Regions from separate parts of the Homo sapiens genome. Here region 2 is linked to region 1. Evidence: fine-mapped expression QTL. Tissue or cell type: esophagus mucosa. Region 1 holds a variant in brackets; the other region holds the start of a gene. All regions are shown on one strand. Distances are from middle to middle.

Region 1 (8,104 bases):
GCCGCCGCCCGCCCGCTCCTTCCCGCTCGGCCGCGGCCTCAGGGACGGATACTCCAGCGCGCGGTTCCAACCGAGGCCCGTGGCGGGTAAGGCCGGGAGGCTGGGGCGGGTACGGGGCCGGGAGCGAGGGGCGGCGCGGGGAGGGGATGCAGCTGTCGCCCGCACAGCCGTGTCTGGACGCGGCCCCGCAACTCGACCCCGTCCCGCCCCCAGCCAGCTGCTGAACTAGGCGGCCGGGGACGGCATTGAGCGCTGGGCGCGCGCGGGAGGGACTGTCCCTGGGGCACGGGTCTGCTGGGGCGGAGTCCGCACGGTGTCAGCAGCCGCTTGTCCTCCGCAGCATCCGCAAGGCCCGCACCCAGGCTTTGGCCCCAAAGGTGGGGACCAGGCCCAGGCACGGCCCGTCCCCGTTCCAGACCCTGATCTGAGCCAGCTCTTGGTCCCGGCTACCGCGTCCTCCAAACACAACGCCCCTCCCCCCATGCCGCCTCCCCCCGCCCCCCACATCCCAGCAACGCGTGCAGAGCTCCCTCCCCCAGGCTTGCTCCCCCGCCCGGGCCTGGACGCCCCCAGAGGCCTGAACGCTCCTGCCCCGCTTCTACACCCCCAATCCAGGTGCACAACCTTCAGGTGCAGAACCCTCCTGCCCCTCCTGCCCCACCTGCCACTTCCCAGCGCCTCCCCCAGGCCTAAGTCCCTGATGCTAGAGGTTAAACCGCGCCCCCCCAGGCCTCAGTGGGCCTCCAAGATGCTGGGGGCACCCTGATCCCACAAAAGATGGGGGTCCCTCTGCTCTCCAGCCTTGAGCCCTCCGCCTCTGGGCACCCGATCTCCATGGAAACTAAGGGCCCTTTCCCTCTCTTCCCGCAGGTTTAGCCCCATGAAGATGAACTGGGCACCCGCGAATGGCTGGGCTCTGCTACAGGAGGCAGCCTTCCTCTGCGTGCGGCCGCGGAGGGCTCCGCGGGGGCTCGAGAGGGGCCTCGAGGGTGTGTGTGAGGCCGGCGCTGTGCTATGGTGCCCCGGGCTCCTCCCTGCGCGTGGCTGCGGCCGGGGCGGCGGGCTCAGGCTGGAGAAGGGCCGCGGGACCCGGGGAACGCGGCCTGGAGGACGAGGAGGACTGGGTTCCCGGAGGCAACAGGACCGGCTCGGCATCTACAGCTACTGTACGTGGACTTCGGGCGCTGGACCCACGGGCGGCCTGTGCCTCTGTGTCGGGCTGGGTGGCGCCCTCAGTGCCCTGGGGCTGCTGCGGCCCTAGGCCTGGCTGGGCTCGGTGACCACATCTGGCCCCCGGGCCGCACCGTCCCCCAGGATCCTCCGGCCTGGGCTCCCCCTTCCTCCCTTGCCCACAGTCTTGGAGCCCCAGTGGGTGCAGGAGCTGCTGGCTGCCCCTGTGGACCCGCCATCCACCGTCCTGCCCATGCTGCCTCGCCATCCACCTGCCTGCCCACGCCGCCTCAGCCTCCCACCTCCCACCTAGAGGAGACCATGGGCCCTGCCCCACCTGCTCCAGGATGTTAGGGTCCCCTCAGCCAAAAAGGCAGTGGCCTGTGGCTCCTGTACCAACAGCCCAGCCACACTCCAGAGCCGCCCAAAGGGAGGTGCCAAGGCCAGGAACCCAAGCCACCCCAGCTCCCCATGCCTGCCCAGGGGCCGTGGTAACCCATGGACAGGGAGGTGACCTCAGGCTGGTTCTGCCACTGAGGCCCTGAGGAATCAGGCCCTCCCCAAAAGAAGTAATGAAATGGACCAAAGGACTTAAGAATTTGGGGGGAAGTAAGGGGAAAACGTTAGGTGCTAACCACCTGCCCAGAAGAGTGGATCTCACAGCCCAGGAACATTCCCAAGCAGGAAAACCATCCGTCCAGGAACCCTAACCCTAAAACTAAGCACAACCCCTACCCCTAACCCCTGACCCTAACGCTGACCCTTAACCATAACCCTTAACCCTAACCACTAACGCAAAACACTAACCCTTAACCCTAACCCCTAACACCTAACCCCCACCTCAAGCACTAAACCCTAAGCCTAAACCTTAACCCTAACTGCTAACACTAACCCATAACCCTAAGCCCTAGCCCCAACCCTAAACTTGACCCTGAACCCAAGCCTCCAACCCAACCCCGACACAAACCCCTAACCCTAACCCCTAATTCTAGCCCTAATCCCTAAATCCAACACCAACCCTTGACCGGACCCCTGACCCCTAACCCTAACCTCAACTCATAACCTCAACCCCTACTCCTACACCTAACCCCTACCCTAATGCTAGCCATAAACCTAACACCCAAACCCAAACTCGAACCTATGCCTACCCCTAAAACCCTAGCCCGAACCGTAACCACAAATCCTAACACACAACGCTACCCCTAAACCTACCACTACCCCACCCCAAACCCTGACACCGAACCCTGAAGCTAACCCTAACAACACTAAGCCTAACCTGCAACCCTTAACCCAACTGTAACTCCTAATGCTAACCCTAACCCTAACCCTAACAACACTAAGCCTAACCCCTAACCCTTAACCCAACTGTAACTCCTAATGCTAACCCTAACCCTTAACTCTAACCCCTTACCCTAAACTGTAACCCCTAACCCTAATCCCAACCCCAACACGTAACCCTAACCCCTATCCCCTACCCTAAAACCCTAACCCTTACAAACCTTAGCCAAATCCCAAACCCTAACCCCCACCCCTGACCCTAATCCCCTAGCCCCCAAACCCTAACCCCAATACCCTAACCCCAACACTAAAACCCTGACCCTAACCGTAAAACCCTACCCCTACCCCGACCCTAGCCCAACCCTAACCCTACCCCAATCCTTCCCCTACCCCTAACACTAACCCCAAACCCTAATTCTAACCCCACTCCTAACCCCAAAACTAACTTCTAACCCCTAAACCCTAACCCCAACCCCAACTCTAACCTTAATCCCTAGCTCTAATCTGTAGCCCTAACCCTAAACCCTAAGGTAACCTTTTATAGGTTAGGATTCGAGGCTTCGTATTTAGGACAGGCAGGTGTTCTGATGTCTCCCACTCACCTGCACGGTAAAGTTCTTCCCCTGGCTCTTCACAACCAGTCGCGATGCATCGCGGCCTCCCCTGGCCGGTGAAGGGCTGGGTTCTCCCGAAAGCCTCTGCTCCTCCTCCCTCCTCCCAGGGCCCTCCGGGCCTCCACGGTGGCCCCAGCGCGGCAGGGACCGTGCAGAAGGGACCGTGGGCTTGTGGCCGGCCTCGGCCACTGTGGGCATGGAGCTCACGGGAACGCGGCCTAGGGGCAGGCTACGCTCCTCTGCGCGCGCAGGAACAGCGGGCCCAGCGGGGGCTGCCGCAGATTTCACTCGCTGGGGCCCGTGCACTCCCGCGGCGGTGTGGTCCCGCAGAGCCGCAACCTCATGAGGCTGCCAGGGCCACAGCGCCTTGTGGAGTCGTCATCCGTCAGACACGCACACTTCACAGGAAGCTTCGGCGCTACACATGCGTACTGCTCGTTGGTGGGGAGGGCCTCCAGAACCAGGGCCGGTCCCCTCGGAAGCCAGCGCACATGCGCGGGGGCACCCGGCAGCGGGCCAATCGCAAGCCTGGACGGCCGCACGTGGCCCTGGCGGGCTTCCCGCCGCGTTTGTAGCCCTCGCGCCTTTACGCATGCGCACTAGTGCCACGCAGGCCTGCCGGAGAATTACCTCACATCTCCAGGCGCGCGCAGGAGTGCATTGCGCAGGCGCGCTGCCTGGAGTCCTGCCCCCAGCGGCGGTTGCTCCAATCACCACTGGAGGCTCCCTCCCGAGGCACCCTCGCTGGCGAGCTGAGAGGAAATGGCGGGGAGGTCCCTGACATCGAAGGCCGAGCCCACCGCAGGAGCCGTGGACAGGGCTGAGAAGGCCGGAGGTAGTGGTGGGAGGCAGGGAACTGTGCGTGAGGGTCTGACCTCGCCGAGGCGGGGCAGGGTTGGGGCGCGGGTGGCGGCTGCTTCTTCCTGTCAGTCCTGATGCTGCTGATTGAGACTTAGCGGGTTTCTTCAGAAAAATTTCGGCCAAGATGAGGGAGTGCTTGCCCGCACACCCCCCACTTTGTCTTAAAGCATTGAACTGTTATCATAGTTGCTCCAATTTTGGTTTAGGTAATTAGTCAAAAGACATCCCTTCCCGTTGTCCCACAGACTTTACATACACACCTCTTAAAACAAAAAGGA[T/C]ATTTTCCTGACGCTCCCAATCCCAAGGGAATTCCTAATTCCACCTTCCTCTCCCTAGAACCAGCAAGTGTCCAGATTTCCCAGTCGCACTAAACTGGTTCTTGACAGTGGGGCCCCCCACCCAGCATCCCGACGCCCCGGGGAGCCGGGGGAGGCCGACTCCACGCAGATCCCCCGTTTGTTTCTCCCTGACCCCGACCTGCCATAGTGGCTCCTACCTCACCCTGGGAAGGGAGGGGACAGGCAGCTGGTCAGAGTTGTACAGAAGTCCAGAAATTGCAGCCCAACAAAGAGAAAGGACACTGTCCTGGCCGTTTCCACTTCAGGACACTGTGTGCCTCTGGGTGTTCTGTGAGGATTTTCAAACTTACAGAAAAGTGGAGAGAATTGTACGGTGACGTCCCTCCTGCTGTCACTCAGCTTGTCATTCTGTCCTGAGATCATCTGTCCCCCTTGAGTTAAAACTCTGCAATTAACAAACGTCGGTGGCTGCCTCCAGCCCTACCTGCGTGAATGCCATGGCAGGTGCTCTGTCATGTTCTTACAAAATGAAGGTTTGAATACTGAAACAAGCTTAGCACAGAAAGCATCCCTACAGTGAGATGTGGCACAGTGAAAGCCCCAGCGAAGGACAAAGCAAGTAAACAGGACAGACGCAAACGTATCCCTTTCATTAAGCACCTGCTGGCCCGCCGGTGTGCTAGCCTTTCAGTATCATGGCTCCATGTTCCTCACATAACCTAGTATATTTAGGTAAGTTTTAACCAATGTCGCTTGTGCCTTAGTTCAAACTGCTACAACAGAAATGCCTTATTTCTCACAGTTTTCGAGGCTAGAAGTTCAAGATCAAGGTGCAATTCAGCGTCTGGTGGGGGCCTGCTTCCTGGCTATAGACTTCTGTCTTCTCATTGTGTCCTCATGTTGGGGAAGTTGCTGCAGACCTCTCTGGTCTTATAAGGGCACTAATCCCATTGCTGAGGGCCCTACTCTCATGACCTAATCACCTCCCAAAGGCCCCACCTCCTAATGCAGTCACACTAGGGGGTTAGGATTTCAACATACGAACTATGGATGGGGGCACAAACATTCTATAGTGACCAGCTACAGAAGAAATTTAAAGGACAAGATTCCAGTTTTAGTCTATCTGTTTTAAAAAGGAAGCAGGGATGTTATCTAGGGTCAGTGACACTAGATACATTTTAGTAAAAAGTCTATTAGTCTTCACCTAACTGGCTGCAGTTATTACTAGAAAGGGGAATGACTGGGGAAAGGGAATGTTGGTGTTTCAATTTTTTCTTCATACTTTTTCACACATGCCAATTACTTGAATAATTTAAAACTTAATGCAAAAATTTATGAGCAGTAATTTGTGTAAGATTTCAGGTGGGACCAAAATGAGGGGACTCCATAAACTCAAAAATAAGCATTTCACAAAATTTTATGCTTGATTTTTTTTTTTTTTTGAGACGAGATTGTGCTTTGTTGCCCAGGCTGGAGTGCAGTGGTACAATCACTGCTCACTGCAGCCTTGACCTCCTGGCCTCAAGAGATTCTCCCACCTCAGCCTCTTGAGTAGCTGGAATCACAGGTACATGTCACCATGCCCAGATAATTTTTTTAAATTTTTTATTTGTAGAGAGAGGGTCTTGCTGCATTGCTCAGGCTGCTCTTGAACTCCTATGCTTGAGCAGTCCTCCTGCCTCAGTCTCCCAAAAGTGCTGGGATTATGGATGTGAACCACTGAGCCTGGCCTTATGCATGTATGCATGATTTTTAATGGCTGTAAATGATTTCATCCTGTGTATGTGCTATAATTTATTTAACAAATCCCCTAAGGCATATTTAGGCTTCTTCGAGTTTTTCACTATTATAAACAATACAGTGATGAACACCTTGCCCATTAGCCATATCCAGAATTACTTAGGACATAGTCTTAGAAAATAAGATGCACCCAAACTTTTGATATTTACTATCAGAAAGTTTGTAAGGAGACACCTTAATTTTGCATATCTGGTTGACAAAGATAAACACGTTTGGAAACATAGGTGATTGGTAAAAATGAAAAACTGGGCATCTTGTATACATCAGTGTAAGGTAATTTGGTATTGTCAATCAAAACTGTTACAAACTTTGGTCAGGTGCCTCTGAGCCTTCTCAACCGTGCCTCGGCCTTGGCCTTGGCCTGTGATATGGTTTGGATCTGTGTCCTCACCCAAATATGTTGAATTGTAATCCCCAATGTTGGAGTTGGGGCCTGGTGGGAGGTGGTTGGATCACAGGAGACCAATTTTATTTAGATAGTGACTACCTATCTTTTAACTGGATCTCTGAGCTCTGGGAAGAGGCCACACTGAATCCTGGGTCTGCAAAAAGGGAGAATTATTATGAGGCTCGACCACATGGATGCTTTTACAGTGTACTTAAAAAACATTAAAAAAATATTTCTAAGTGTCTAAAATATACTCTTCCTTAAAAATGCAGGAGTAGCTTCTGTTGCAATAATTAATAAACAAAAAAATCAGGTAACACAATACAAAAGCAAACAGTTTAGGAGCTGACATGAACTTGTGTGTTTACACTCTTGGGGATACACAAGGAAAAACAATTTTCTCCACAAAAGGGAGTCTGGTGCCTTCTCCATTTTCTTTAAGGAACCTCAGGCTATTATAAACTATTTTAGGTCCCTCATGCAGCAGAGCGTTCAAGGGAAAGGAGAGACAGCAGAACTATATGAAGAAAATAGCATTCAGTCAACTGAAAAGAAAAAAAACTTTTGCCCAAAAAACACAAGGTCCTAGGAGAGAGAAAAAAGAAAAATCATGAAGCCCTTTTAAATACACACACACACACACACACACACACACACACACACACACACACACACACACACATTGGATGTTAGCTTTTAATTAAGATGACTTTTAACCATTTGAGTTTCTTTTTAAAAAATTTTTAAGATCTCATCAACATATTTCAGCTAGGACAAATATCTGCTATTTCAGAAGTACCAAGTATCAAACCAGAAAGGTCTTGATTTAGGAACCAAACCCAGGCTGTCATGGAAAAAAGAAGACAGAACCTTAGCTATGGAACTGCAGTTGGGGTGACAATCCTTTCTCTTTCAGTTTGGCCTGGCTAGCAAAAAGGTGGCCTTGTTATGTAAATAAATCCCCTTAAGTAGTCAAAATCAAAAATCTTCCCCCCCTTTTTTCCTTTTGCTGGCTGTTTTTTCTTCCCCCACCACCCCTTTTCTGGTGGGAATTTAGCCACTTCAGAGGCCTTGTTCCACATAATTTGGAACTTTCCTTTGGATTTGATCAAGTCAGAATTGGCCAAACCCAATAGGAAAAGGACCAAAACAACAAAAACAGAAAGAAACAACAACAAAAAAAAATACCAGTTAAGCAAAACAAACAAATGATCACACAACTTGTATGGTTACTGGACACTCTAATGATAAGGAAAAATTAAGACCAGCTGGTTGTTAATTTTACCTTTAGCCAAGACAAACCCCAATTCAGTTACTTACCTAGGGATGGGTCTTAGGCTGAAGACTGCTCTCTATCATCTTAGAAGCAGGAAAAAAACCCTCAAACTTGTCTTCCCTGTTGGGAGCGAGTTCAAACTCCAGAAAGGAACTTTCATGGAAGCAGGAAAACTTGCCTTCCTTGTTGGAAGCAAGAAAAACTCCAAAAAAAGAGTAGAGTTGTTTAGAAAAATAAACTTTGGATCTGGAGCGAATTTTGGGAAATGAGGGATTCCCTGGATGGGGGACTTCCAGAACTCAGCAACTTGTCATATTAGTTTGAACCATAAAGATAGCTCAAGCTGCTAGCAAGCACTGATAGGATATTTGTCAAAGGTCAGGGGCACCTCTACTCAGAATCCCTTTGTGGTTGCCAA
Region 2 (8,104 bases), 110 kb after region 1:
CCCCTGTGCCCAGCTTCATGCTCTGCTGCTGGTCTCCTGAAACAAGGTTCCCCGCAGGATCCGTTCACACTGGGCCCCAAAATGGTAGGAGGTCCTGGCCAGGTGGTTCAGCCTCAGAGGCAGGACGCTATGAGGGGGTCCTCACAGCCACATAAAATGTGAGGGACAGCTGAGGACCCTCGAGCCAGACCTCAAAGGGAAAGCGTGTACCTGTCTGTCATTTGTCTAAGAAACCATCATCAGCTACCTGTGTGGGCCTCAGGCGTCCACAGACCCCGCCCCCGCTCGGCTGCTGCCTCCCCCACGCCTGGGCCGCACTCTGCTTCCTTCCTCCAATCTCTGACTCTCCCTGGCGTTGGTTTTTCCACAGCTGAATCTTACAGTCAGGATGGCCCCGGTGCCCAGAGAGGAGCCCCTCCCAGAGAGAGCTCCAGACCCACAGCCTCCCCGCCCGTCTCCGAGACCCGCCATCCTCCCAGTCCTCCTCTGCGTCCTCCCAGTCCTCCTCCTCGTCCTCCCACTCCTCCTCCTCCTCAGCCCCGTCCCCTTCACTCCTCCCTACTTACTGGAGCACAGCGCGACCACCACCCATGCGTGGGGGCACGGGCTCTGGCACCATGAGCCAAGGCTGCACTCCCAGAGGGAGGACTCGTTGCCCCGGCAGGACACGTTGTGAAGCCAGGGCTGGGCCATCTCTCCAGGCAGCGGGACATACTTGGGGGCGCCCACGGCAGGGCCGCAGCCCAGCTGCCTGCACACGACAGAGGCCTCTGCCAGCGTCCACTCCTGGTTGCACACGTATCCCCATGCCCCGTGGTGTCGGACCAACACCACTCCGTCGCACGTGCTGTGTCTGTACGCCAGCCTCAGAGCACCTGGTCCACCTACAGACAGACAGGTCCAGTTAGAGGGGCCAGAACCAACCAGAGGCGCAGGAGGAGATGGCAGCCGCGGCAGCAGGGAACGGCCTGTGAGGCCTCAGCAGCGAGTCGGGCTCCTCTCACCCCACCAAGCAGTCCCAGAGAGGTGATGGGCGCGGCTCACAGAGAAACCCTCACCCCATGTGTCTCCCCGGGGGCTACTCCCCTCCCTGGCCCTCTGGAGCCCCAACATCCTGGAGGACCCCATCCCCCAGGCAAGGAAGTCCCCTGTCCTCCTGGGTCTGCAGCTGGGTGGGTCCTCCCACCCACTCTCTGCCTCCCAAGCATCATTCCCCTACTTCCACTGGAGGCCCTGTGGTCTCCAGCCCACCACTGTCACACCTGCCCCACCCACGTGACTGTCCACACCCCTTGGAGTGCCCCGCTCACCCTTCGGTCCTGTCCTCTGCAACCCTGAGTATCCAGGAAAACCACCCCTGCCTGCCCTCCCACTATGCCAAACCCAGCCCCACTACCCCACCCATACCGGCTTCCAGGCAGGATCTCACCCTCCGGTCTCTGAGCATCTCAGCTACTCCAGCACCTTCTCTCCCACCCGCCACGGAGGCACCCCTAACCACCCTCTCCAGGCCTCTGCAACCCCACATCAACACAGCCACCCCGAGGAAAATGAAGCAACCAGTAGGAGGAAGTCCATGTGGGTGGTGCTGTGTGGTCCCAGAGCAGCCTCCAGGGCCCCTGGAGGACTCTCCACACCCAGAAAAGAGCCTCCCCGATGGCAGTCAGGAGCAGAGGGGGGACCCTGCCTGGTCCAAGATGAAGACCTTTCCCTCCCACCTCCTGGGGAGCCTTGAATCTCCTCTCTCTCAGTCTTCATCCATCCCTCCACACCCCCCAGCCTCCTCATCACCCTCCCCACCTGGTTCTTCTCAGGACATGGATGCGTGCTGGTGTCTGCAATTTTTTCTTTTTTAGACAAAAGTCTCGCTCTGTCACTCAGGCTGGAGTGCAATGGCACGATCTCAGCTCACTGCAATGTCCACCTCCAGGGTTGAACTGATTCTCGTGCCTCAGCCTCCCATGTAGCGGGAATTATAGGCGCCCACTACCACGACTGGCTAATTTTTGTATTTTTAGTAGAGATGGGGTTTCACCATGTTGGCCAGGCTGATCTCGAACTCATGACCTCAGGTAAACTGCCTGCCTCAGCCTCCCAAAGTGCTGGGATTACAGCCATAAGCCACCACGCCCGCTATGAATAGCTTTTCATTTTATATTTTCTAAAGCTATTTCTTGTTGTAATAGAGAATTCCGGCCCTTGTGCATGCGATCGTTGACACAAAAGCAAATCCCTTCAACCCCAGGCTTCCATCCATCTGTGGCCACATTGCTGCCTTTCCTTCAAATCCTAACCTCCTCTGCACTTTCTGCAGCTGCCCACAGACTTCCACCCCACCGCTGGGGATGTGGCTCCGTCCAGCACCAGGTCACCGCCCTGCTGGGCACCTGGACCAGCCTTGACAGTGAAGTGTTCCTCAGCCTCAAGGGCACCCTCCCCTGCCTCCCGCCCAGCCCCACACTCACATCATGGCTCCATGCCCACGTACGCAGGTCCCCGGGGCTCCCTCTCACCTCCAGCCTCTCCTGCTGTTCCTTCTAGCTAGACCCCCCTCTCTACACCTCCCTGCCCCTGACCCAGCAGCCCTTCCACATGGCTTCACACCCCAGTGTCTCCACCTGGGTGCAGCATCTCCATGGGACCCCATGCTCAACCTCACTGCCAGATGCAGCCAACCCTCCCACCTCCTTCCCAGGACCTCAGCCCTGCTCCAGGGCACGTGGATGGAGCAGCCCCCGCAGGACCCCTCAGGACTCTGTTGATCAGGGTCATTGGGACCAGACACTGGGCCGTGTCCCTCATTTTGTCCAGGGCCTGACCCAGCCCTGAACCCTGGGTTCCAAGCAGTGGGGCTAGGGTCTGGGGGCCCTGAGGTCACAGGGATCCAGCCATGTGGAGTCACCTCCCTCCTGCCCCAGCATGTCCCACCCACTCTGGGCTGAGTGAGACCCAGGCAGACGGCAGGTCACTGCAGGGACCCTCATGCCCCGGGGCCTGGGCATCAACAGAGCTGATGCCTCCAGAAAGTTCCATGGATGAAGGAAGCAGAAACTTACCAATGGGGACTGCCCAGAGATTCAGAAGAAGGGGCCCGAGTCCCAGGGTCCAGAGAGCTGCCCTCATGGTCCCACAGCCCTCTGGGCTTCAGCAAGCTCTCGCTGCTTAGCTGGGGCAATGGCAGAGGTCACAGCCCAGAGTCACATATACAGAAGTGGGAGCTGCCAAGGACCTCCAGGGTCCAATGGGGACAGCCACAGCCTTTCCAGAGCGAATCAGCAGCTCTGCCTCTCAGCCGTGAGCAGAGCAGCCAATGCCTTGCTGGCCTGAGCATCACCAGACATGGGGAGGGTGCAGGCTGTGGGTTTCCTCCCACACTGATCAAGCTGCTGATGGGACTAGACCCAACCATCAGGCAGAGATGGTCCAACCTGCCCACAGCACAGCATCAGTGAAGCCCTGCGTCTCTGCCCTCCACCCGGGCCCGTCGGCTTCAGCCATGCCACCACCACAGAAGGCAGTGGCCCCAGACAGCCAAGGAGGCGTCCTCTGTGCCAGCAGATGGCACTAGCAGAGTTAGGGGTAGGGGTAGGATTAGGGTTTGAGTGGGAGTCCCAGCAGCACCAGAAGAATGACACGGAAGAGCTTTGCAAGAACTCTGAGAACTGAACTGTCGTTGGAATGAAAACCCTTGAGAGAAGATACAGTTAAGAATCACTCATCATATGAAGACCCAGGGACACGACCATTTCAGTAAGAGACAACCAACTAAGGGCGGCACCAGGAAGAGTCAGGTGTCAGAATTATCTGACAAGGATTTTAAAACAGGCATCATAAAAATGTTTCCACAACAAATTGCAAATGCTCTTGAAATAAGTGGAAAAATTGAAATCTCAGCAAAGAAATAGAAGTTATAAAAATGGAACAGGCTAGGCGCAGTGGCTCACGCCTGTAATCCTAGCACTTTGGGAGGCTGAGGTGGGCAGATACCTGAGGTCAGGAGTTCGAGACCACCCTGGCCAACATGGTGAAACCCTGTCTCTACTAAAAATACAAAAATTAGCCGGGCAGGGTGACATGCACCTGTAGTCCCAGCTACTCGGGAGGCTGAGGCATGAGAATGGCGTGAGCCCAAGAGGCGGAGGTTGCAGTGAGCTGAGATTGCACCACTGCACTCCAGCCTGGGTGACAGAGCAAGACTTTGTCTTAAAAACAAAATGAAACAGTGGTAAGGATGTAGAGAAATGGGACCTCTCAGATTTTGCTGGTAGATTCAAAAATGGTGCAACTGCTTTGAGAAAGTTTGGCAGTTTGTCAAAATGTTAAACAGAGATACTCCTGGAAGATACCACTTGAGCCCAGAAGGGGCAACTCCACTCTTGGGTACATATCTAAGAGGAATGTAAACTTATGTCCACACAAAAATCTCTACATGAATGTCCATGCAGCATTATTCATAATAAAGATGAAAACAGCTCACGTGTGCATCCACTGATAAATGGAGAAACAAAATGCGGTATGTCCACATTATGGAATGTCACTCAGCCATAGAAAGGGAACAAGGCACCCACACAGGCTGGATGTGCGTCAACCTTGAAAACATGCTCAGTGAGAGAAGCCAGATGTAAAAGACCACATACTGGGTACGATTCCATTCATATGAGATTTCCAGAATAGGCAAATCAATAGACAAGGAAATTAGATTCATGGTTTCCAGGGGCTAGAGAAGGAGGAAAGAGAAAATGACTGAAAATAGTATAGTGTTTTTCTTTTTTATTTTTATTTATTTATGTATTTATATATTCATTTATTTATTGGGAGACAGAGTCTCACTTTCTCATCCAGGCTGGAGTGCAGTGGCATGATCATAGCTCACTGCAGCCTCAACTTCCTGGCCTCAAGTGATCTTCCTACCTTAACCTCCTGAGTAACTGGGACTATAGGTGCATGCCACCATGTCTGGCTAATTTTTTAAATTTTTTTGTAGAGATGGAAAGCCTTGCCATGTACCCAGGCTGGTCTCAAACGCCTGGCCTCATCGGACCCTCCCACCTTGGCCTCCCAAAGTGCTGAGATTACAGGTGTGAGCCACCACAGCCAGCTACAGGATTTCTTTTTCAGGTGATGAAAATGTTCTGAAATTAGTGGTGCTGGTTGCATAATCCTGAATATACTAAAATCCTCTGCACCACACACTTTAAAAGAGTGCATTTATGATACATGAACCTCAATTAAATTGTTTTTAAAATAAATGATTACAGAACTGAAAATATAATAACTGAAATGTTAAAAACTCAATGAACGGACTAGTAGAATGGAAATGACAGAGGAACCAGTGAACCTGATGATACTTCAATAGAATTTACACAGTGCAAACAACAGAGAGAAAATAGAAAAATTTATAGAGCCTCGGGGATCTGTGGGACAATAATAACAAGACTTAATCTTTGTATCTGGGAAATTCAGGAAAGATAAGAGAGCGTATGGGGCTGAAAATGTATTTAAAGTAACAACTACTAAATATTCTCCAAATATGGTGAAAGGCACAAAACTACAGATTCAAGAAGCTGAGAAATCCAAAATAAGATGAATTCAAAGACATTCACACCAAGACACATCATAATTAAACGTTTGGAAACCAAAGGAAAAAAAAATCCTAAAAACAGCCAGACAAAAAGGATTGCACTGACTATAAAAAATGGTAAAATGTGAATTACAGCTAATTTCTCGTCTGAAATGGAAGCAAGCAGGAAGTGCCTTATTTTTAATTGACATGTAAGAATTGTACATATTTATGGGATACAGAGTGATACTTTGATACATGTGTGCAATGCATAATGATCGAATCAGGGTAACTACCAAACCCATCAAACATTTATCATTTATCTGTTGGGAACATTCAAAACCCTCTCTTCTAGCTATTTGAAAATACACAACAAGTTATTTTGAATTATAGTCACCCTACAGAGCTACAGAACACTGGAACTTATTCCTCTGTAACTTTGTATTTATTAAACAACCTCTCCCTATCTGCTTCTCCCCTAACCCTTACCAGTCTCTAGTAACTCTAATTCTACTCTACTAATATGAGGTCAATTTCTTAGTCCCGACATGTGAGTGACAACTAGCAGTATTGCAGTATTGATATTTTTGTACCTGATTTATTGCACTTAATAGAATGTCCTACATGCACACACTGCCACAAATGGCAAGTTTTTTTTTTTTTTTTTGAGATGGAGTTTCACTCGTGTTGCCCAGGCTGGAGTGCAATGGTGCAGTCTCGGCTCACTGCAACTTCCGCCTCCCAGGTTCAAGCGATTCTTCTGCCTCAGCCTCCCAAGTAGCTGAGATTACAGGCACATGGCACCACGACCAGCTAATTTTTGTATTTTTAGTAGAGACAGGGTTTCGCCATGTTGGCCAGGCTGGTCTTGAAATCCTGACCTCAGGTGATCCACCTGCCTTGGCCTCCCAAAGTGCTGAGATTACAGGTTTCTTTAATCTACTTATTTTTTTTCTTGAGACACCCCCAGGGTCTCATTCTGTGGCCCAGGTTGGAGTGCAGTGGCATGATCTTGGCTCACTGCAACCTCTGCCTCCTGGACTCAAGTAATCCCCCTACCTCAGCCTCCCTTGTAGCTGGGACCACAGGTGCATGCCACCACACCCAGATAATTTGTTTTTTTTTTTTTTTTTTTTTGTAGAGATGGGGTTTCACCATGTTGCCCAGGCTGGTCTCAAACTCCAGGACTCAAGCAATCCACCAGTCTTGGCCTCCCAAAGTGCTGGGATTACAGGTGTTAGTCACCATGCCCAGCCTATTTCACTCTTTTTTATGGCTTAATAGTATTCCATTGTGTATATATATTACATTTCCTTTATATAGTTATCTATTCATGAACACTTAGGTTGATTCCATGTCTTGTCTATTGTGAATAGTGCTGCAGTGAACATAGGGGTGCAGATATCTCTTCAATTCACTGATTTCCCTTCCTTTGGATAAATACCCAGTAGTGGGATTGCTGGATCATATGGTCGTTCTATGTTTATTTTTTTTTGAGGAAACCCCATACTGTTTTCCATAATGGCTGTACTAATTTACATTCCCACCAACAGTGTGTAAGTTTTACCATTTCTCTGCATTCTCACCAGCATTTGTTACTGTTTGTCTTTTAGATAAAAGCCCTTCAAACTTGGGTGAGATGATATCTTATTGTGGTTTCAATATGCATTTCTCTGGTAATTACTGATGTTGAGCTTTTTTCCATATATTTTGGTTCTTTATATGTTTTCTATTGATAAATGCCTATTCAGAAACTTTCACCCATTTTTTTATCGACTTAATTTTTTTTTTTTTTTTTTTTTTGCTATTCAATTGTTTGAATTCCTTATATATTCTGATTATTCACTCCTGGTCAGATGGATAATTTGTGAATATTTTCTCCCATTCTGTTGGTTGTTACCTTGTCATTTGTTTCCTGTGCTGTGCAGAGCAATTTTAGATTGATATATGCCCATTTGTCCATTTTTGCTTTCATTACCAGTGCTTCTGAAGTTTTGTTCATAAAATCTTTGCCCAAACCAATGTCCTGACTCATTTCCCCTATATTTTCTTCTGGTAGTATTATAGTTTGGATCTTACATTTAAGTCTTTAATCCATTTTGAGTTGATTTTTATATGGTGAAAGATAGAGGCCTAGTTTTATTTTCTGCATATGAATATCCAGTTTTCCCAGCACCATTTATTGAAGAGGGTGTACTTTCCCCAAGTGTGTTCTTGGCACTTTTGTCAAAAGTCAGTTAGGGCTAATGTGGATTTGTTTATGGGTTCTGCATTTTGTTCAACTGCCCTGTGTGTCTGTTTTCATACCAGTACCATGCTGTTTTGGTTACTATAGCTTTGTAGTATGTTTTGAACCCAGGTAGTGTGATTCCTCCAACTTTGCTCTTTTTGGTCAGGATTGCTTTAGCTATTCAGAGTCTTTGTGGTTTCATAGGAATTTTAGGAATCTTTTTTCTATTTCAGTGAAGAATGTAATTTATATTTTGATAGGAATTGCATTGAATCTACAGATTGTGTGGATAATATGGTTATTTGGACAATATT

Direction of the effects. Alleles are on the strand shown, and positions count from the first base shown. SD is a standard deviation of normalised expression in the study named.
With allele T in place of C in region 1, the expression in esophagus mucosa of the gene that starts at base 3,176 in region 2 is lower (moderate effect, 0.42 SD a copy in GTEx).

Evidence for each region. PIP is the estimated chance that this variant, and not a neighbour inherited with it, causes the effect.
Region 2: it holds the start of SCART1, and the variant in region 1 is fine-mapped to the expression of SCART1 in esophagus mucosa (GTEx, PIP 0.99).

What each region holds. Positions count from the first base shown.
Region 1 is chr10:133,561,250-133,569,353 of GRCh38, reverse strand. It overlaps SYCE1 (synaptonemal complex central element protein 1), which reads left to right and starts at 3,771. Exons shown (of 13, transcript NM_001143764.3): 1 at 3,771-3,897. The coding sequence starts at 3,825. It also overlaps the pseudogene SPRNP1. The variant T/C (reference allele first, on the strand shown) is at 4,202.
Region 2 is chr10:133,449,017-133,457,120 of GRCh38, reverse strand. It overlaps SCART1 (scavenger receptor family member expressed on T cells 1), which reads right to left and starts at 3,176. Exons shown (of 12, transcript NM_001396050.1): 1 at 3,057-3,176; 2 at 567-884. The coding sequence starts at 3,123. RefSeq lists an enhancer at 3,402-3,451.